3 linked regions of the Homo sapiens genome follow. The protein of the gene in region 2 purifies or fractionates together with the protein of the main gene of each other region. This does not show direct contact. Each region holds a gene or a part of one and is shown on either strand. Other genes may lie near its edges.

Region 1 (7,000 bases), on a different chromosome or scaffold from region 2:
GGGCAACAAACTAAGAGCCTGTCTCAAAAAAAAAAAAAAAAAAATTAGATTCTATTTGCAAAAAATACAAAATAGTGTGGTCGGAAAGAGCAAAACCTCTGAAATCAGAGTGCTTACTGTGTGACCTACAGAAATTTTGTTAACTTCCTATCTTGGTTTCCATCCATACATTACTAATAATCATCATCATCTTATTATCAAGTTAGGGTGGTGAATAAATGAATTAACCTAAGTGAGAACCCTCAGTCTCCCCTCTCTACCAACCCCATGCCTCCCTAGGGTTTATCATAATGCAGATTTATAACAGATCAGAGTCAGGCGCAGTGGCTCACGTCTATAATCCCACCACTTTGGGAGGCCGAGATGGGCATATCGCTTGAGCTCGGGAGTTCGAGGCCAGCATGGGCAACGTGGCAAAACCCCATCTCTACTAAAAACATAAAAATTAGTCAGACGTGGTGGTGTGTGACTGTAGTCCCAGCTACTCAGGAGGCTGAGGTCAGAGGATAAACTGAGCCCGGGAGGCCGAGGCTGCAATGAGCTATAATCCACCACTGAACTTCAGCCTGGGCAACAGAGTGAGACCATGTCCCAAAAAAAAAAAAAAAAAAAAAAAAAAATTGTGTACATAATTCTTTAACTGGTTACAGCGGCCTCATGCCTGTAATCCCAACATTTTGGGAGGCAAGGCACGAGGATCACTTGATCCAGTTCAAGACCAGCCTGGGCAATGTGGCCAGACCTCTTCCCTACAAAAAAATTTTTTTAAATAGCAGAGCTTGGTGGCGTGCTCCTGTGGCCCCAGCTACTTGGGAGGCTGAGGCAGGAAAATCGCTTGCGGTGAGGATGTCGAGGCTGCAGTGAACCACGATGAAGCCACTGCATTCCAGTCTGGGCAACAGAACAAGGCCCTGTCTCTAAAAAGAAATCTAAGTACAGAATTATATCAATTTAAGGAAGAAAACTATTATAAGAACTACTTTGCAATGGCAGAGACAGCCGCGGCAGCAGTAGCGTGCTCAACAAGAAGTGCGTAGCCCCACTCTCCCAAAAGAAAAAAACGAATCATTGTAAAACACAAAAACCTTAAATAAGAACTCTTTAAATGAGTGCTGGAGGAAAAATTTAAGAGGCTTTGAGGAAAAACATTTACTGACAAAATGTTCAATGTACAAAAATTCTGTATCCTTACTTTTCATATATAGGTTTATCAACACTTTATACATGGCCTTCAGAATTTCAAATAGTAGGTTTTTTTTTTTTCAAGAGGGAAACCAATTAGACCAAATGACAAGGCATACTTATACTACCAGGAAAGAAATACTGAAGAACGTGTCTTGTTTCATAAACTTGGTACTGACTAAATAAAAGAAAGCCTCACATTTTTGTGCCTAAGAATGATTAGTATAGGGATTCTCAAAGCATGATCTGGGGACAAGTGAATCCAGTTGTCCTAAAAGATCCCAGTCCCCACTAAAGGGGCTTCCCAATGTCAAAATTATTATCCAAATAATTTTTTTAAAGTTATTGGTCAGCCGGGCACAGTGGCTCACATCCGTGATCCTAGCACCTTGGGAGGTAGAGGTGGGCTGATCACTTGAGCTCAGGAGTTCAAAACCAGCCTGGTCAATATGGTGAAACCCTATCTCTACTAAAAAATACAAAACTTAGCCAGGGGTGATGGCATGTGCGTCTGATTCCAGCTACTCAGGAGGGTGAGGCACGAGAATTGCTTGAACCCAGGAGGCAGAGGTTGCAGTGAGCCAAGATTGCGCCACCTCCAGCCAGGGCGACAGAGCAAGACTCCTTCTCAAAATAAATACATAAATAAAGAATAGTTATTTGTCTTTTTCACTTTCATTCTGTTTTCTAGAGGTTTACACATGGTATGTGATATTGCAACAGACTGAATGCAGAAGCTGATGAGAAGCCCATTGGCTTTTATTAAGCCAGATATTAAAGAGATATGCAAAAATTTAAAACAATGCCACTCTTTTCACCAAGTTCTTAACTGTTTTAGAAAAGTTATTTTTCATAAAAAAATGTTATTTAGGTTACCATGTAATAGAATTAATTTTTATTTGTTTATTTATTTTTTGAGACAGTCTCACTCTGCACCCAGGCTGGAGTACAGTGGCATGATCTCTGCAACCTCTGCTCCGGGGTTCAAGCGATTCTCCTGCCTCAGCCTCCTGAGTAGCTGGGATTACAGGAGCCCACCACCACGCCCAGCTCATTTTTTTATTTTTAGTAGAGACGGAGTTTCACCATGTTGCCCAGGCTGGTCTCGAACTCCTGGCCTCAAGCGATCCACCCGCCTCGGCCTCTCAAAGTGCTGGGATTACAGGTGTGAGCCACCAAGCCCGGCCCCCACTAATTTTTAAGAGTACAAATAAGTACAAAGAAGTCCTGAGACCACAGGCTTGAGAACAACTGAAAGTGTAAGAGATAAGTGACAACACACACACACACACACACACGTGCACGCACAAACCTCAACCTCTTCCTACCTCTGCCCTGGAAGACTATTACTGCTATTTATATCACAGAATTTTTGAACACTTCAAACTCTCTAGTGACCAGTAAAAAAAGAAGTTTGGTGGGGGTAAAACTGGACAGGAAATTAAAGGCAAAGAAATTAAATGCTTCCTTTTCAGTTATAAGGCTGCCATTCTGATGTGAAGGCAAAATTATAGGCAATTAAAAGACATTTCAAAATTAACCTCTATGTTTGTGCCATAAGCAATAATTTATTGCTTTCACATTCCTTCCACAGCTGCTTGAAAATTCATACAAAAGCTTAAGGTATTCAATGCAAAAGCTAGATTCTCAGAGGTTGATATAATATACTTACCCTCAATGAAAAATTTAAATGATTTCATACTATCTTCATCCCCAAACTGTTCTCCTACCAAAATTGATGCCTATGCAGAAAATGCCACAGTTGCATATCGAAAAGAGAATGCAAAGGCTTACTACGGATAAAAACAGAATTAATTTCTGAGTCATAACATTTCTCACTTCTGTAACCCATAAAGTAAAAAAATGTAAATTTGACAATCTCAAAGCAGCCAACTTCTCAACATACCAATATAAAAGAAAAGACAAATTTAAAGACAGACTTTTAAGCTCTATTAGCGGTCACTTTACTCTCAATACACTACTCAAATTGAAAACTCACTTTAATATGGGAGGAGACGTTGTGTAAGTTAACTTTAATTTGTTTAATACTGGAAATTCTTTCTTGTCATCAAAATATTTTTATAACTCAGGACCAAATTGCAAATGACCATTTAACTAAGCTATTAGGAGGGCCCTGGGTCCTCCAGCCTCCAGACTGGCACCAAATTACTTCACTTTTCAGGTATGTTTAGCATTTCGTCATCCTATAATACAAGAAGCCTTATAAGAAAAAAAAAACCCTGCTTGAATGCTATTTTTCATCAGAAGACTTTAATTTAATGCTTCTCTGCTTATTCCACACTATGACTAGAAGTAGTCCAAGAGTGATGTCATGGAAAACAGCTTCCCTAGCCTTTAGAGATTGGATCCAGTGAGAATTCTAGGAAAAGCCTCTATTGGGGAATAAAACCCCAAATCTTCTAAGTTCTATTCTAACATGAAATCACAAATACTGTAATGTTAGCCTTTCAGTTCCTCATAAGAATTATACAACCAAACTAAATATTTTGGAAAGTCTTGCTGTTATGATACAGATTTCCTGCAAATCATTAGTCTATAATATATATCATTAACTAAATTCAAAGATCTTATCAGAGACAAAGGGTATTTTTTTCTATCCATTCTTACATGTTTCAGTGATTGAGCCTGATGAGCTTTAAGGGTCTTACGTTAAAAACAGAAAACCTGACAACATATTTTGTCTTTCCTAATTTCTTACTTGCAAAGTTAAAATTTCAAATTCTGAAAAGGTCTTCCACTTTTGGACCAGCAGCAATACAACATATACCCTTGGCAGAGATGAACTATGAGAGCCTTTCCAATGATTCTTAAAATGGCAATAATAATAATCTTATATTACTATCTCCCTTGGTGCCGCTGTTCCTTGAAAACCAGCTACACTCCCAACTTAAGGCCTCTCTACACCCTGTTCCCTCTGCCTGGATCACACTATCCCCAGATATATATGGTTCCCTTAGGGTCTTTGGTGTCATTTCAGTGAGGCCTTCCTCAAACACCCTCTTTTAAAGTTGCAAAACCCCATCTGCCCCATCAACCTGACAATCCCCATGCCCCTCCACTTTATTATTCTCTGCAGTATATTAAATGGCAATACAGGCTATCCATTTTACTTAGTTTCCTTTCTGCTTCAATTTGTCGGTTTTGCTTCACTGACTGTTGCATCTCCAGCACCTAAAACAGTGCTTGGCACATAATAAGTGCTTAATAAATATTTGTTGGAAAGACAGATAAATTTAATTCTCGCAACCTTCCATGTTTTGTATCCATCCCCGACTTAAAGATGAGAACATCAAAGCTCACAGAGGTTAAGTAACTTGCCCAAGGCTATAATTATTAGTAAGTTGTGAAGTTGGGGTCTGCCTGACTTCATAGCCTCCCCTATTAAACACTGTTCTACAATGCCTCACCCATGGCTCCATCTTTCATTTCTCTTCAATAAAAAAAAAAAAGCACCACATGAGCTATAGCACTCCAATTCAGAGAAAATAGATGCTAATAAAGTAATCCACCTCCTCTAAGCTAAAGATTCATTCTCCTCACAGTTAACATTATTCACTCTCAAAACATTTGCACTGGGAAAGGCCAGGCTTGACAACAGGCCACCTACATCATTTGCGGGGACTCTTGTTCAAAATCAGGGAAAAATGTTGTTAAAAGGCTGGGCGATGGCCGGGCGCGGTGGCTCATGTCTGTAATCCCAGCACTTTGGGAGACCGAGGCGGGCGGATCACTTGAAGTCAGTCGAGACCAGCCTGGCTAACATGGTGAAACCCCGTGTCTACTAAAAATACAAAAATTAGTCAAGCATGCTGACGCGCATCTGTAATCCCAGTTACTCGGGAGGCTGAGGCAGGAGAATCACTTGAACCCGGGAGGCGGAGGTTGCAGTGAGCCGAGATCGCGCCACTGCACTCCGGCCTGGGAGACAGAGCAAGACTGTGTCTCAAAAGATAAAAAAAAAAAAAAAAAAAGGCTGGGCACGGTGGCTCCCGCCTGCGCTTTGGGAAGCCAAGGCGGGTAGATCACTTGAGTCCAGGAGTTCGAGACCAGCCTGGCCAACATGGTGAAACCCCGTCTCTACTAAAAATACAAAAATTAGCCGGGCGTGGTGGCGAGCGCCTATAATCCCAGCTACTTAGTAGGCTGAGGCCCAAGAATCGCTTGAGGCCGGGAGGTGGAGGTTCCAATGAGCGGGGATCGGATCGCACCACTCCACTCCAGCCTGGGCGACAGAACAAGACTCTTGTCTTAAAAAAAAAAAAAAAGTCGTTAAAGGTAATAAAATGTAAAGCTCTTTCAAAACTTTCTTCTGTATCTCTCAACTGTTTCGCGGTTTTTTTTTTTTTTGAGACGGAGTTTTGCTCTCGTCGCCCAGGCTGGAGTGCAGTGCCGCCATCTTGGATTACCGCAACTTCTGCCTACCGGGTTCAAGCGATTCTCCCGCCTCAGCCTCCCGAGTAGCTGGGAATAGAGTAGCTGGGATTACAGGCGCCCGCCACCACGCCAGGCTAACTTTGTGTTTTTAGTAGAGACGGGGTTTCTCCACGTTGGTTAGGCTGGTCTCAAACTCCCGACCCTCAGGTGATCCGCCCGCCTCGGCCTCCCAAAGTGCTGGGATTACAGGCCTGAGCCACCGCTCCCGGCTCTCAGTGTTTTTTAAATTTGATGTTTAATGTCGTTCTGAGTAAAGGAAAATTAAAAATTTAAATTAGCATGAATTTTACCATTCACCCTTATACTGTACAATCCCAGTTTTACATGCAGATTATTAAACCAAGTGTGGGGCCCTTCTGAACATCCATGAAGCCAAGCCTGCCCTGATCAAGGTTAGGTTTCTGAGATAACCCGACTCGAGGTAGAGAGAAGGTCAAACCTTGAAATCCCCAATAAAGCAATGATTTGTCAAAATTTTATCAAGATTAGTGATAAATCCAATCTATAAAACCAGCCACTTTGAAGTAGGCTCTTCCTTTTACTATGTAAATCCTGCCCAACTTCTATTATTTTGCCTTTTTACAAAACACAAAAGCATACTCTGAAAGACAACTGGTATTGGACTAGAGGATTATAAATTTAATAAAACATCTAACTACTCAAAACCATTTGTTAGCTAAAAATAACAATATACCCAAAAATGCTTCTCTTTTCACTTTTTGTGGACCATTTAAGCCAAACCATACTATATTTTTGATATGCCAAGTAAAAATGATCAATACTAATCTGTTACACATATAAATCCTGGCAAAATAAATTCAATTTTCAAACCACAAATATTTACTATCCTATTCTTTCCCCAAATTAATCAGCAATGAAGAGTGCAAGTTAACATCCTCTACCACTGATAAACTGTGACTCTAAGCACCTACTACGTGTTGTGATTAAAAATGAGAATAAAATTATATAATTACATTAAGTGCTAAAAAGTTGAAATGTTCTATACATTTCTAGATCTATTAAGGATTACTGAAACATGAATGCATTGATAAGCTCTTCAAAACCAATTTTCAAATTAGTAGAAGTATTCAAGCATCCTGCTCCCTAGATATGAAAAACAGGCATTAAAATTAGGGCATATATGTCTGCAAAGCATTTTCTAAATTACCACTTAATCAGATTAACAAAGGCAAACAAATTCGGAAAACAGAAAAGACTAACAAATGTAAGGTGTTAAATATTTGGAGTAAGAAAAGGGGCCTAAAGCGGCCTAGAACGATGAAAAGCAAAGCCCCTACGGTAACGTTACATTTGAATTAAAGAATACCGTTATTTAAATAAGCAGTTAGCACTTCGTAGGAGG
Region 2 (9,580 bases):
TGGACATGCAACACTTCATCAGATTTGCCATGGGAAATCCTGTTTGAAAAAACAATCTCTCGATTTGGTTGGAACAAATAGTCAAACAGAATCATTCCATACCCAGCAACAGTGTCTAATCAGCACTTCATTATACCTGTGATAGACACACCAGGATGGATTTCTTTATTTATTCACTCACTTACCCACACTCATTGAACATCTACTCAAAGAAATGCGCCCAGTGAGGCACAATCGAGGGAGGAACAAAAGGAACAGACTCCTCCACTCGAGGAACTTAACAATATTATTAGGAGAAAGGTAAATTCCACTGATGTCTGACTATTCCAGATGTGGTCCACAGACCAGCCACACAAGCACCACCTGGAAGCGTGCTAAGAATGTCAAATTTCAGGGCCCTTCCCAAGACTTCCTGAATCCGAGTCTGCATTTGAACAAGAGCACAGAAAATCCACAGAAACATCCAACCGAGAAGCACTTACACACTTCTCCCAGGGCTCAATGCTGAACTTAACTCTTCTGAGCCTGAGTCAAGTTCAAACCTCAGCTGCAAAATCTGCCCAACTGGCTCCTGACCCTAGTCCTATTATTTTTCCTGCCTCTGGACTCCGCATCTGGCTCTCTGCTACTTCATGAGAAGAGCAACTTGAAATTCTCCATCACAGAGTGAGAACTAAAAGAGGGCCATGTTATCCTCCCAATGCATAACACTTATGCCATGTGAATCTCAGATTCTTATGCGATAAATTCTGATATTTCCATTCCTGCAACATTTTTCTGTTTTCCCAAAATGCCTACTCAGAAAAAGAAGTAACAACTTAATAATTCAAGTGACTAATGGGCCTGATTCAAATGGTTTACAGTTTAAACACTTCATGTTTAGCTGTATATTTTCCATGATCAAAAGAAGGGTCTCAAAACAAGACACAGCTTTATGCAATTATTAGAGTTTAAAAAGTTAGGATTCAGTTAGAGAGCAAGTGAAATTAGAAAATGCTTATTACACTAGAGCCTAGCCTTGTCCTTCTACTCTTAATATTTTGAATATAAACGCAGACACACACACACACACACACACACGTGCATAGTTACTACTAAGAATTCCAAATATAACATACATATTTTCTGTGAACATGCAGTGTTTTTTATTTAATTGACATCACTTGGGGCACTTGTAACTTATGATCTTGGAGGCAAAGAAGAAGCATATAAGTTCTATTTTGTTTTATTTAGGTTTGGGTTTGTTTTTTTTAATTTTTCAGGAAGTTCAGTAAATGGACAGTCACCTAAACCAGCAATTTTTTTTTTTGAGACAGGGCCTCACTGTCACCCAGGCTGGAGTGCAGTGGCACAGTCACAGCTCACTGCAGCCTCCATCTCCCTAGCTTAAGCAATCCTCCCACCTCAGCCTCCCAAGTAGCTGGGACTACAGGCACGCACCAAGCCCAGCTAATTTTTGTATTTTTTTGTAAACACAGGGTTTCACCATGTTGCCCAGGCTGGTCTCAAGCTCCTGGGCTCATGCAATCTGCTCACTTCGGCCTCCCAAAGTGCTGGGATTACAGGCATGAGCCACTGCACCCAGCAATTCTTCAGCATGTTGGCCTCAAAACTCCTTTACCTACTGAGTATCTGTAAAACCTTTGTTTATATTATATATAGACAGAATTATTTAAAATATTCGATTATTGATTCATTTAAAAATAACAATAAACCCACTGTACATTAATGTAAAAAACATATTTTTGTTTAAAAATAGCTATATTGTACAAAATAAAGTAGTGATAAAAGCAGCATTGTTTTGCAAATATCTTTAATGTCTGACTCAACAAAGAGGTGTATTCTCACATATGCTTCTTCATTCAATCTGTTGCAATATCACACATCTTGTAGCCTCTAGAAAATTCCACTGTACACTTCTGAAAGACTGAAAGTGGAAAAGGTAAACAACACCTCATCAGAGTGACAAGACAATTCAACAGGGAAAAGAGTTGCTTTTTTCAACAAATGGTGCTGGGACAACTGGATATCCACATGCAAAAGGATAAAGTTAGACCCCTACCTCACACCATACACAAAAATTGACACAAAATGGATCAAATATGGGAGTAGCTGTTAATAGATACAGATTTATTCTGGGGTGATGAAAATGTTCTGGAATTAGGGAGTGATTGTAGTTGCAAAGTCTTATGAATATATGAAAATCAGCTGAATTGTGCACTTTAAAATGATGAATTTTATGGTATGCAAACTATGTATCAATTTTAAAAATGGATCAAAGTCCTAAATGTAAGAGCTAAAACTATAAAACTGTTTAATGAAAACATAGGCATAAGTCCTTATTACCTTGAATTGGGCAATAGTTCTTAGCTATGACATCACAAATACAAGCAACAAAAATTATATATAAATTGGACTTTATCAAAATTAAAAGCTTTTTTGACCCCATCAAGAAAGTAAAAGATATCCCACAGAATGGGAAAAAATATTTGCAAATCACTTATTATATAAAGGGTTTGTGTCCAGAATATATGAAGAACTCTTACAACTTAATAATAAAAGACAACCCAATTTTAAAATGGGCAAAGGATCTAAATGGGCAGCTGTCTGAAGAAGATATACAAATGGCTAATAGACACATGAAAAGATGCTCAACTTTAGCCACCAGAGAAATGCAAATCAAAACCACAATGAGATCCCACTCCACACCCACTTAGGATGGTTATAATCAAACAGATAGATAATAACAAGTATTGGAGAGGATGTGAAGAAATTGAAACCCTGCTACACTGCTGGTGGGAATGTAAAATGGTGCAGCCACTTTGAAAAACTGTTTGACAGTTATTCAAAAGATTAAACACAGAGTTACCATATGACTAGTAATTTCACTTCTAGGTATACACCCAAGAGAAATGAAACATGTCTAGAGAGCAACTTTTTCAGGAATGTTCATAGCAACATTATTCATAATAGCCAAAATGTCCATCAACCCAAATGTTCAACTAATGAATGGATCAACAAAATGTGATATATCTATGCAATGGACTGGACTACTATTCAACAAGAAAAAGGAAGGAGGTACTGACCCATGCTACAATATGGATAAACCTTGAAAACATTGTGCTAAGTGAAAGAAGCCAGACACAAAAGTTCACATATTTTATGATTCCATTTTTATCAAATGTCCAGAATAGACAAATCTATACAGACAGGAAGTAGATTAGTGGTTGCCTAGGACTGGGAGGTCTGGAGGGAAATGGAGGTATGACTGCTAAAGGGCAAAGGTTCATTTTGGGGATGATGAAAATATTCTAAAATTAATTGTGGTGATGACTGCACTACTCTCTGAATATATTAAAAATTGTATACCTTAAGTGGGCGTACTACAAGGAATGTGAACTACATCTCAATAAAACTGTTATCCAAAAAGGCAAACAATATCTTAGTATTATTTTGAAAATAGTTTTTTTTTAATAGCATGGACTCCATGAAATGATCACAGGGACTTCCAGGATTCCCCAGACAACACTTTGAGAACCACCTACCCTAGACAAAGCATCTACAGTAGGTATTGTGGGTTATCTTTTTAGGAGCCATTTCCCCCTTCCTCCTATCTGATTTTAGGTATTTGCTCTTCCCCAGGCAGAACATCACCACAGGGGAAGTTGATCCCACCCTGAGTCCCAGGGTCAAGCTCTGCACCTTAAGCTAATCAGCACATTATCTTCCCCTGGTCAGGGTCACTGCTTCAGGGGTAAGCATGTGACCTGGGAGGTCCCATCAGAATGACTGCACACTTCTGTTTGGGATGCTGAATTGGAAGTGGCTTCTCTCTTCCTCTGGAGGGTATCCTATGAAAATGTGAGAACTGGCACTACTATAACTATTTCACTACCAGTCTGAGGATAGAGCCATCCCAAATGGCAAGAAGAGGCAAAGGAACCCCAGAGAAACAGAGCCACAGTCCTTGAATTAAATATATAATTCAAGACTTCTGAATATATGAGTCAGTAAATGTCCTTAATGTTAAAGCCAGTTTGAATTAGAATTTGTTGCATGTAGTTAAAAGAATTCTAGCTGATACACCGTCAATGTGCAGCTAATATTATTGTATTCTCCCTGAAGTCAATACACTTTGCCTTTGCTTTGAAAATATCAAGAGATAAGATCTTAGCAGACCATTGGAATAACATTACATTTTTTTAGGATATACTTAATATAAAGAGCTGGCCCATATAATATAGGTCTAAAAACGTCAGAGCTGTGCCACAGTATTTAACAAACTGCCTCTCTCCTCTATTCCTTTTGTGTCTGATTTTCAGTAGACTCTGAATGGCATTCCAGAAGAGCTTGGTAGAGAAAAGTGTTGAATTGTCCTTACTAGCAGAAAACTGTGGCTGCCAGCTGGACCTAGCTTGGATTTCACCAGCAGGATCATCATGGGGCCTGATATTTAGCACAGATATAGGTTTGCACATGATAATATCATTCCCATTTCAACAGATAAGAAGCTAACCTTTTCTTCAACTAAATTGATTAGAATAGTACTCTGTATTTGGGTGATATTTGAACATTTACAACATGCTTTTACATAAGCCATCTCAACAACACAGTGGAGACTGGCAGTTGAGGAATTATTACTCTCATTTTTCAGTTGAAGAACAGGAGGCCCAGTGACTGGCTTAAGGTCTTGCACCATCAGAAAGTGATGGAGTTTAGGCTTAAAGTCATTTGATTCTAAGTCAAAGCCTTCCCACTATTTAGGATTACCTCTAATATAGTTTCACAAAACATTAAGATAACAGTCACTATTTTTTCAGCTCTCACTATGTGCCAGGTACTAAGCTAAGCACTTGACATATAATCCTTATTTAATCCTTACAAAAAGTCCATGAGGGCTATGTTATTATTATTTCCACTTTATAGCTGAGGAAACTGAGGCCCAATGAGGAAAAGTGACTTCCCCAAAGTCACCTGGCTAGTCAATGGCAGAGCCAGGGTTCAAACCCAAGCAAGCAGTGCTCCAGAACATATGCTCTCAACCACTTCATGCCACTGTGCCACTTGAACAAGCATAAAGTTTGTCTGCTATAGAGAGCTGTGCCTGCTCTGAACAAGATGCCTTTTAGCTGCCCAGAACCCACCCATTCCATAAGGGCAGAAATGATATTTAACAACACACACTACAAAGGACTCTCTCATAATTTTCCTTGTTCTAGAATTTGATCATACAAAGATTGCCTAAAAAAAGCCAGGGCTGAGATGACATCTTACTAAACTCTCATGAAAGGTTTATTGTAACAATAATTGCAACCTAATTTGACGTATTCTGAAAGACGCTCCTGCATGATTAGCCGACAGCTGTTCCTCCCCACCACACACATGTGCATGCACACACACACACACACATAATTCCATTCCTTCCATAATGGCAAAGCCACCTCCCATTATAGAGAGGAAAAATGCCAGATGCATATATTCCTAGACACTTTTACAGCTAGGGCATGGGCATATGATCCAATCCAGGCCAATGGAATCTGATGGGAAAACTGATGGGGACTCTGGGAAAGTGTTCCTCTGTGATAAAAAGGCAATGCATGAGGAAATACCTCTTCTTGGACAGTGGATGTGGTAGTGACTGACTGACATCTAAAATTACTGCAGCCACCTCATAATCATGGAGACTATAGAGACATAGTTAATGCACTGAAGATGCCAGAGTGAAAAGATGGGAAGCAGCAACTGAGTCCAGGCAGAGCTTTGGAACAGCCCTGAAGTTGCCCTCTCTCTGGACTTTTTGCCAGCTAAGATAATAAGTGTCCTTATTATTTAGGCCACTTTAACTTGTCTACTCTTTTACTTGCAGCCAAAAGCAGCCTAATCATTCAGTCCCAAGAGGCAGTGCTCCAGAGATGAAAGAGCTCTGGATTTTGAGTCAAAGGACCTGGGTTCTGATCCACTTATTTGCTTGGTTACCCAAATTGCTAACCTCTTTGAATCTCATTTTCCATATCTAGTAATACAATATTGAGATAATACTCAGTAACACAATAACATCCATAAAATGGAGATAATGGATAGTTATAAAATTCATATGAGATAATACGTACACTACCACTTTGTCAACAGAAATGCTTCATTCACATGTAATTTATCCAGTCAATAATAAAACCACAGACTTTTTAAACTGTAGCATCCATCTAACCAAATTCTTTTGTTTTACAAAAGAAAAGAAAATTGACTCCAAATGTCAAATGACTCACTCAAGATCACACAGCTGGTTGGTAACATAACTAAACCACACATCTGATTCCCGATCTAATGCTGGCATGCTACCTTCATGTTGACAGGTAATGAGTTAGACTAAATATTGGGAAGGTTAGCACTCATCCATTCAACTGATGTTTAATGTGCACATATTATACTATATAGAATAGTAGGCACTATTCTAAATATCAGGGACTCTGCGGTGAACATCAGAATGTTCCTACTCTTGTGAATTTAACAGTCTAGAAAGAAAATTATTCAATCTACATCGATATTTATTGTGTTCCTACTGTATGCAAAGCACTATGCTAAGATTTTTAGTCAAATACAAATACAAATTTTCAGCCAATTCCAACTATGTCAGCCATGTTTACCAGGCTTTGCCAAAGTATGAATAATGTCAAAAATCTATGTAACCCAAAAAAGTCAGTATTAAAAATGGCAAGTTCATTAGCAAGGGTTGTGAATAACAATGCCGGTGTCTAAAGAAAAAAAAGTAGATAGAAGATGGCTAGGACTCCACTCTAATTGAAGTAGCAAGGCTGAATGAAGAATTAGAGTCAAACCTCATCCTCCTACAAAATCCAGACTTCAGGGGTTGGCTCAATTGGAAAAGCCCAATAAGGAGCATTCAGTAACTCCTTCCCTTCCCCAGGCCTCTGTCTTGTAACCCAAACTCCCCTTTACTCCCTGTCTATTTGGAATTCCTCTATCTTCCATCCTACCTGAACATTCACAAGCAAATGATATGATGGGACAGCATCCCAGACCCTGTGAAAAGAGACAGAGCCAGTGACTTCCACATCTCTTATTGGAACTGACCACCAGTCTGCTGAGACTGGACCACTAGGTTGTGTGTTTGAAAGTTTTCGTTGGCCAAATACTACCAAAATTATATGATTTGGAAAAGGATTATTTAAAAGCTGTTATTTTGCAAAAGCTCTTTCCTATCCTCTATGCAGTGGCAAATGCAAAGATCCTAGGGGGTGGGGAGGTAACAAGGAGAATACTCTGCCTTCTCCCCTTGTGGGAGGCACACTGAAGAGGCACAAAACACATGCCCTTTCACCATCACACCCTCTAATCAGAGCACAACTAGGCAATTCTCCCTTAGTTTCTGGCTTGGTTCATCTTTTGATGCATAGGCATAATTTGGGGCTACTACTGTCTGAAATATAAGGACACAGTGTATCAAACCTAACAAGGCATTTATGCATATAGTTTCTTTAAAGGCAAATACCATGTTTCTGGGGGGTGGAAATGGCCCCCAGTGACATTTGGATTGTGGGATTCCAATCAGCTCTGAGATGCCAGCCTCCCTGGAAGACCCAGGACACATTAAGTTTGCAAACTGGCAAATAGGGTCGCTTTGTCCATTCAGATCATGAATCCCAACTGGCCTTCAGTCACTGGTTTAAATTCCCCTACCTTGGATTTACCTCTTTCCATGTCTGGAAATTTCATTGAAACTTCAGCTATTTTAACTATGGGGTAATATGTCAAAGACATACATAAGCTTTGGATCCAGACAATTCTGGATTTGAATTCCAGCTGCTCATTCTCTTTTTAGAGATGTGGCCTTGAACAAGTCACTTAAGTTATTAGCTTCTCAGTTTTCTTACCCAAAAGAAGGGAATAATACCTACTCAAAGGTTGGTGGTAGAGATCAGACATAATGAGTGGAAAAGGCTGGCTCATGAGAGATGCTCAAGAAATGGCACCTAGAGCTATTCACATTGTCTCAAGCAATAGTCCTGAAGGTTTCTATCATCTCTTGCATCTACCATGTGTGGCCACTCTCCAGCACCTTGCTAGAGAAACCTGTTTGAGTGGCTCATTTTTCTTTGAATCTGGAATGCTTACCTACTAGAGAACACAGACTAATGAGCTCCCAAGGATGTGTGGCTTGAGTTTCCCCTACTTATTTTGGGGCTCCATAGGCAGCACTCCTGTAGTGAACAGGAGTGAACAACTAACACATGTCCAAGAGCTCCTGCTCCTCCTACAGAGCCTCTAGATCAAGCTCATCCAACCCATGGCCCAGGACAGCTTTGGATGCAGCCCAACAGAAATTCATAAACTTTCTTAAAACATTATGAGACTTTTTGTGATTTTTTTTTTTTTAGCTCATCAGCTATCGTTAGCGTTAGTGTATTTTATGTGTGGCCCAAGACAATTCTTCTTCTTCCAATGTGGCCCAGGGAAGCCAGAAAATTGGACACCCCTGCTCCAGAGCCAGGCAGACACCAGGGATGAGAGCTCCTAACGCAGACAGGCAGATGTGGGCTATGGAGAGAGGGTGACATTCTGTGACAATATATACAATCCTTTAACTTTGTAGTTCTATAGAAGGAAGGAAGCAAACACAGATGGATTCACCCAGAACAAGTGCCAGTAATTCCAAATGGTTTTGTTTCGCATTGTTTTTTAATCCTTTTGTTCTCACTCTAAGCAAATGGGAAGTCTTTGTTACCTGATACCCGGAAGGGCAATTTCAATTCCTGGTCTGGAGTACTCTAGGAAAGTGTGAGGTCTAAAGTTATCCAAATAAAATATTTTAATTTATTTTAATTGGTTAAATAATAATTGTAATTTGGGGGCAGAAAGGGCAGAAAAAGACAAATCACAAAATGAAACATCATAATTTTTTAAAAATCAGTGCCCAAGCCAACATTTTGAAACATAACATTTTAACCTCTTTGGCACTAGTTGGGTCATAAGCACTGGAGTTTTTCAAACTGTTGTTAGACTGGCTACAATTTATTGTTTCTCAAAACACAAGACAACAAATACATGTCCTTTGGGGAATATTTATTATTCTAAGGAAGACTTCATCCTGAGGGAGGGGAAAAAAATGTCAACACCAAGTGGTACAGGGCAGAAGAGGGCTGAGAGACAGAGGAGAACTCAACAGCCTCTCTCCCTGACGGCCCCTCCATCATCTACACATTCATTATGGGTTAAAGGACCTGTACACCCACTTTAGGACTTAAAGCAAAGTGCACAGTCCACACTCTCTGGATCACAAGACTATTAGTACATGCCAGATGCTTCTGTGCAACCCTTGTGGCAGTAGAAACACTGCCTATCCTGCTAATCCTTTTATTATTAAGTTTAGCAGTGCTGCTTAGCTCAGAATGAAATTCAAGCTCCCCCAGAAAATTCAATGGGAGCCTACTTTCCTGGGAGATCATGGGGCATCACATTCCTACCTTGACACTTGTCCGGCTGTCAGGTTACAAATTAATTGCAACTGCCCCCAACATGTCACACACTCCCACTAACAAAAATTAAATAAAAATAAAACAGGGAA
Region 3 (7,000 bases), on a different chromosome or scaffold from region 2:
CACACACACACACACACACACACACAGTAAATCAACTACAAACACCCTTGCTAGTCTATCCTTACTAGTCTATCCTGTGAGGGCCTGCCCTTTGCCCTCACAAATCATAAACCACGTCAGTATACTAATAGAGGAATGGTTTAAGAGGGTACATAGTTTAAGTGAGAAATGTTACCTAGGTAAACCACAGAAGTATAAATGTAATTAACAAGGCTGTCAGGAGGATATAGTGGGTACTTCATATACCCATGTGAATAACTGGTTTGAATATATTTATAATCTTTCCCCTCCCTTTTTCACATTAAGTAGCAAGTTGAGAAAGGAGGCCATTTATTTTTAACATGCAATGTTGAAATATCCCTACTTCTCCAACACACAATGAACATGTTGTATTCCTAGCCATTTAAAATAAACATTTCCAGGAACTTTAATATTATATTATACAAGCGCGATAAAAACATTTTTTAAAAAAAGTTATAGATTGGGGAAGTTCAGAAAGTACCAGCACCTAGCATAATGAATGCTTCGAACCTACATATTCAATTAATACTTACTACATGAATATGAATGAATCAGTCAATGTCAAGTACTTTATCAGCACAGACCAGTTTCTGGCCGAAATCACAAGTACTACCTGCAATAAAAAGTTACTAAACTATTAATTCATATCCTTCAATGCTGTGGTCCTCAGATACTATATATCCATTTCCTTGAGAACAGTTTATTTTCTCTTTCAGAGTAATATTTTTTAAAAACAGATTAAAATAAAGTCATCTGCCATAGCAGATCCACTAAAGACAAAAGAACCAGAGATTGTTTTTGGCCCAGTGAGGAAAAAAATGGAATCGCTTTAATGCTTAAGTCAGTTTTACAGTGGGTGCATTACATCTAAAATGAATGAACCACTTAAAATAATGTGTGAATAACCTACCAAATCCAGGAACACCTTTGAGACTCGCTTTGAGGCAAATTTTCTCCAATCTGAGGTAGCTATATCGCATCAGGCAATTCCACAGGAACATCCAGTCCATTCTTGTCCGATGGTTCATGATAATGACACTTCTTTCTCCAGGAACAAATGCATCCCCAGTTATAATCACTTTTACACCAAACATGGTCTCCAATAATGCCTAAGAAAACAATACAGATATACAGCAAATTAAAGTTATGATTTTCCATAGGTAAATTTTATCATGCCCTATAAATAAATCTTATGATTTCTAACATGTAAAAGTTAGTATTTCCCATGATCCTTGCTTCTATAATAAAAAATTGAGTGGTGAGGTTATCTAGAAGAATGAGAATATCAAGCACTATTTCTATTTTAAGCTTCTGTGATGTCCTAATTAAAAAATGCTGATTGTCCTTGAAATCAAGATATCTTATTAAGCAAAAAGTATAAAAGGTGAATATCAATATTCTACTGTGTAATATTTTAAGGATATAGATATGTAACATTATTACCTTTTTTTCTAGAAAGAACAGTCAAAGAATTAGCACTGGGTACAGGGGAAAAAAAAAAATCCCGGAAAGGTAAACTGTTCACTTTATAGCATCCTGTACTATGATGTTTTAAAAACAAAAACATAGATCTTATTTATTTTGACACTATGTAAAGAATAAATTAACTATACATCTACTAAAATACTACAAGCCTTAGTACCTAGAAAATAGTAATGTTCAAATAATTGCTGAATTTCCTTAATTTGCTTTTCTGATGGGCCAGGTATATAATACATATGAAGTATTTAGAAAAACAATATATTATAGACTTATGAGTTCTTGAAAGTAAAATAACAGATTACAATAAAAGCTGATTATTGATTTCAAACTCTTCTTTGAATTCTCAATTTACATGTAACAAATTTACTAGTTAATATTTGACTTATTAATAAAGAGAGAAATTGATCTAAAGGCAAATATACGATACAGAATCAAAAGTTCTCTTGGCGAATATCATGATAATCTTGAACAAGGTATAGCCAATAGACAAACTGTGGTATACTCATATAATGGAAAAATGATACAACAATGAAAGTAGATGAACTACAAGTACCTACAGCAACATGAAAGATACACAGAAGCATAATTTTGAAAGACAGCAAAACAAACAAAAATATATACAATAAATGTCAATATATAAGACTTTCTAAAAGATTAAGATATTTTAAAGATGATTATATAGATGCTAAAATTATAAAGAACAAGAAGAAAATAACTATCTTAAAAGTCAGATTAATGAATACTTCTACCAAAAGGAGGATGTTTTCATTGGAAGTCTAGGTAGCTTGCTGGAGAACTGACAATGCTGTATTTCTTGACCTGGTTGACAGTTACACGCAAAATTTTTCATTAAATTGTACATTTGTGTTTTAATAACTTTTCGGTATGTTTGCTATACTTCACAACAAAAAGGCATTTTTTTAAAAATGCAATATGAAACAGTAAGACTTTGAAAAACATAACAGGATCAATAAAACATAGGTTCAAAATAATATTAGCTAAAGAAATATACTAGAAAGTAAAAAGAAGTTAGAAAAGTTATATGTCCAAATTGTTACAGAGTCAAAGTGTTAACATCCTGATACAAAATCATTTGGGCTAAGTAGCTACAGATATCCCATAGGTCCATTAAGTTACTTTCCCACAGCTGAGGTTCACTTTCAGCATGGGTATTTAATCCAGTTATCTATTATGTCCTAGAACGATGGCCTCCAAGAGGTCAATAAAAATGTATTTCTCTTAAGCTGTATATAAAGATATGTCAATGTGTACACATACTTTGCTAGGTAAAATGCTTGCAGTTTTCATCAAATTTTCAAAAGGGTCCATAACCGCTCAACTAATTATAACCCCTACTCCAAAAAGTCCCTTGAAAGTGAAATACCTACATGGAAGACCTCCTGGTAAAAAGGATCATGGCAGAGTCCTACAGGTGTGGATCCACAGCAAAAAATGTCCCTTTTTCTTTTTTTTCTTTTGAGACGGAGTCTCACTCTGTCGCCCAGGCTGGAGTGTAGTGGCGCGATCTCGGCTCACTGCAACCTCTGCCTCCCGGGTTCAAGTGATTCTCCTGCCTCAGCCTCCCGAGTAGCTGGAATTACAGGTGCCCGCCACCACACCCAGCTAATATTTTGTATTTTCAGTAGAGACAGGATTTCACCACGTTGGCCAGGCTGGTCTTGAACTCCTGAACTTGCGACTCGCCCGCCTTGGCCTCCAAAAGTGCTGGGATTACAGGCATGAGCCACCGTGCCCGGCCAAGAGTTAAAAATCTTAAGCCTATAAATTCCAAACCTCAAATCTAAACCTATATATGCAATCTCTAATATATGATACCTATAGATCCCAAACAATCCTTTGCTTTTCATTATGAAAAATAACATAAAAAATCCAAGACTGGGATGGGTGTGGTGGCTCACATATGTAATCCCAGCACTTTGGGAGGCTAAGGCAGGAAGATCGCTTGAAGCCAGGAGTTTGAAACTAGCCTAGGCAACATAGCAAGACTCCAGCTCTACAAAAAATTTTTAAAGGCCAGGCATTGTGGAACATGCCCAGAGCCTTAGCTACGCAGGAGGCTGAGGCAGAAGGATTACTCGAGTCCAGGAATTTCAGGTTACAGTGAGATCTGACTGCACCACTACACTCCAGCTGGGCAAGAGAATGTAGTCTCCAAAAAAGCAACAACAACAACAATCAAGACCATGTGTCCAGGAACATCTCATATAACATGACATCCTCTCCCTTGACATCCAGCATTCTACCAGAATATGCCTGAAAGTTATAAATAACCTTTGGGCAGCCAAGATCTCAAGTCCACATTAATTGGTTGTAATACCAGATGAGACATATCCAGTCAACCTTATTTACAGCTCCTGCAAAGGCAGAAAAACAAATATACTACACAGAAATAAAGCTGTAATATCTATACAGAACTCCAGAATTCAATTAATCCAGACTAAAAGACTGGGAAAAAAGACACTATTCTCACATTTCTCATGTTTATTTTATTGCTAGTATAGGAGATAATAGTGTCAACAGTAATAAATCTAACAAAATTTTATAATGCATTGTTTCTTATATTGAAGAGTAACAATTCTGATAATTTTTACCTAATTGGTCAAAGATTTCTCTGTGTATTATTTAACAGAAATATGGAAGCATTTTCCAAGGATCTTTTATATACCACTACTTACTATGTCCAAGTGTTCCATTGTGTATAAAAACACAAAGATGAGAGTGGTTCCTCTCAAGATCACAGAGAAAGTTTTACCATCATGCCCGCTGCTCTCACTCTCATTTATCATTCTGATGGATCTTTACTTAGTCTGAGGTAATAACAACTCATCTCCATGTCTGCTTTTGCTTTTCAGGCTCAGATTAGGTCTGGTTCTCCAAATCCCTAGCTACTTGAGGCTTTGCAATCCCAACTCATTCTTCAAAACACTGAGCACCCACTTTGTTAAGAGCAACAGTGTAGACAAAAATCACATTCAGCAATCTATGTTTATTCAACACCTGTTTTGTGCTAGGACTGGAATGGTATCAGAAGGCTGTGGAAGAAACTTGTGCCCTGGGTAGACAGTTAGAAAATGACCTCTAAATTCCTAAGGCATGATTTATGGTGAAAGGACAGAACTCCAGTAATTTTCATAATCCCAGGTAGTAATCAGACTGTCGGTTAGTTAGAATTTTGAGAAGCAAAAACTGCTCTGAGCACATGCTGAGTTTGACCCTTACAATATTCATTATGTTGAACAGAATGGTCCAAAAATAAAAGGAACAAAGGCATGCACTCCGAATTATAGAAACATTCAAAGAAAGACTGAATGGTCACCCTGCAGATAGTTCTAGAACGGATTCTTGCCCACAGAGTTAGGTTAGACAAAGTGACCTCTAAGTCTCATCTAAGATTCTAAAACATTTCACTGCTATGCCTCTTTTAGCACAGAAATGTGCTCCTTAAAAATAGTAAGACAAGAAAAATCTTGCCAACAAAATCATTTTAATCCACAAGAGAAACTTAATGAAAGAGAAGATCATTTTGTGACTATTTTTGTGAAGCAATAATTAGTTTAAGTGCATTTATCCTAATTTATTTTTAGTGGAAAATTATTTTTAACTGTTTGGGATTGCTTAAAATAAAGTACATCAATAAGGGATAGAAGAAAAGCTTTTAGATTAAATTCACTCTGAATTTAAAAAGAATATATTTTATTATTGCTTAAAAACTCCTTTAGCTCCTTGTACGAGTATGAGATAAAAGGTGATAAAAGACACCCTTGATGGTTCTTCTCTGTTTCCTTCAACAGAGATGTTCACTATCTCAAAACTAGAATATCAATTTTTCTGTAACCTAGCTATAAGGAATTCAACATCTATACATTTCTTAACTAAAAAAACTTTCTCTGTCTGATATGCTGTAACTAGTAAACTAAACAGCTGAGTGACAGCAGTTTTCCAAATGTATACTAATTTTTTACTAGTACTGTGGTAGTTAAATCTTACCCATGTGTTAAACTGTCCAAACAGCTAATAAGACAAAAGTTAGGAATAGGTGAAATTATCTTTGAAAATCTCATAGGATGGTGCATCTCAAAAGATCACACTATCAGTAAGTCCAGCTCAGCCAATCTTCTCCCAAAATTGTACTATATTGATATTACCCTACCTGACCATCAGACAAAGTGATTGGTTTGTATATTGTTTAAAAATATCTATCTTTAAACACAAGAATCACACTCAGCAGAGAACCACTCATATTTCCTATTTCATCTCACATGAAGCAGAAAAAAATTCATTCTCTTCTCTGCCCACTCTTCCCTTACCTTAGTGCATGTAATTGAAACTGTACAAATACTGTAGGTGTATAATGTAATTCTGCAGTAATAGTAATGCTACTAGCAGTAATAATAGCAGAAATAGCTATTGCAGAATTTGTTTGGTAACTTGTCCTATAAATACCAGCATTTCTTCCAGATTAAGAATTTTAACTGTGCACATGGCTGCCCAGAAAAAAAAGACATTTCCCAGATTCTATTACAGCTTTTAGCTGCTCTTACCAATAGAGTAAGCAAAAGTGATATGTGCAACTTGCTATGTACTACACACGTGAGTCACTGGTATAGAAAGAAAGCATTTGCTCTGGACTTCCTCCAGAGTGGGGCAAAGAAGTGGCAGTGACCCAGTCTTGACCAAATACAAGAGGACATTATACCAGGCTGGAGGCCAAGCTAGGTGGATTAACAGGATAGAAGACATCTGAACCCTTTGATGACATCAGGGACCGTAGGGACCTTGCCAGCCTGGACCTGTAAGTCAATATAGTTCTACTGTATTGGAGCCACTATATTTTGAATTTTCTCCAAAACACCAGTTTAGCCTAAAATTAATATAAAAGCAAAACTAAAACTAAAACTAAAATTAATATAATACCAAATATTTACCGGGTACTTACCAAATGGCAAGCATTATACTAAAAAGGCTATATATTTATTACCTCATTTAGTCATTACAATGACTCTCTGATGTAAGTAGGTAGTATTAAGACTCCTTTTTATAGAGATGAAGAAACAAAAGCTTACAATGAGGCTAAGGAGCTTAGCCAAGTTCAAATGACTAGAAAGTGGGAAGGCCAATAGTGAAACCAAATATCTGTCTGCAATGTCTGTGAAAATAAGCACTCTGCTTATGCTCGCTCTCCAAAAATTAGAGTGACTGGACACTGTAAAGCATTACAACTGTAGTAATTTTTACCAATTCTCAGAACTCTCAAGGTTTTGGCAGAAAGATTCAACAAAAATGTGTGGTTCATAATTAAAGGATTATATACTATAGAAAACTGATGACATTTAGAAAATGGAGTACAGTAACAATACATGACTGTTACAAAAAATCTTTTACCTCTGAATGTTTGCTTTACAATCAGATATACAATTCTGAATCCAGAATAGATCTCAAAGATCATTTACTCCAATTTCTTTATTTTACAGATGAT

The links.
Region 1: the proteins of FRMD3 (region 2) and KLHL15 purify together in Homo sapiens (affinity purification with mass spectrometry; 2 studies listed by BioGRID and IntAct, with this or other methods). This does not show direct contact.
Region 3: the proteins of FRMD3 (region 2) and LCLAT1 purify together in Homo sapiens (affinity purification with mass spectrometry; 2 studies listed by BioGRID and IntAct, with this or other methods). This does not show direct contact.

What each region holds. Positions count from the first base shown.
Region 1 is NC_000023.11:24,017,187-24,024,186, forward strand, and holds part of KLHL15 (kelch-like protein 15), read right to left. Parts: intron 1-7,000. UniProt on the Homo sapiens protein: Substrate-specific adapter for CUL3 E3 ubiquitin-protein ligase complex.
Region 2 is NC_000009.12:83,527,241-83,536,820, forward strand, and holds part of FRMD3 (FERM domain-containing protein 3), read right to left. Parts: intron 1-9,580. UniProt on the Homo sapiens protein: Putative tumor suppressor gene that may be implicated in the origin and progression of lung cancer.
Region 3 is NC_000002.12:30,527,246-30,534,245, reverse strand, and holds part of LCLAT1 (lysocardiolipin acyltransferase 1), read right to left. Parts: intron 1,131-7,000; coding exon 932-1,130; intron 1-931. UniProt on the Homo sapiens protein: Exhibits acyl-CoA:lysocardiolipin acyltransferase (ALCAT) activity; catalyzes the reacylation of lyso-cardiolipin to cardiolipin (CL), a key step in CL remodeling.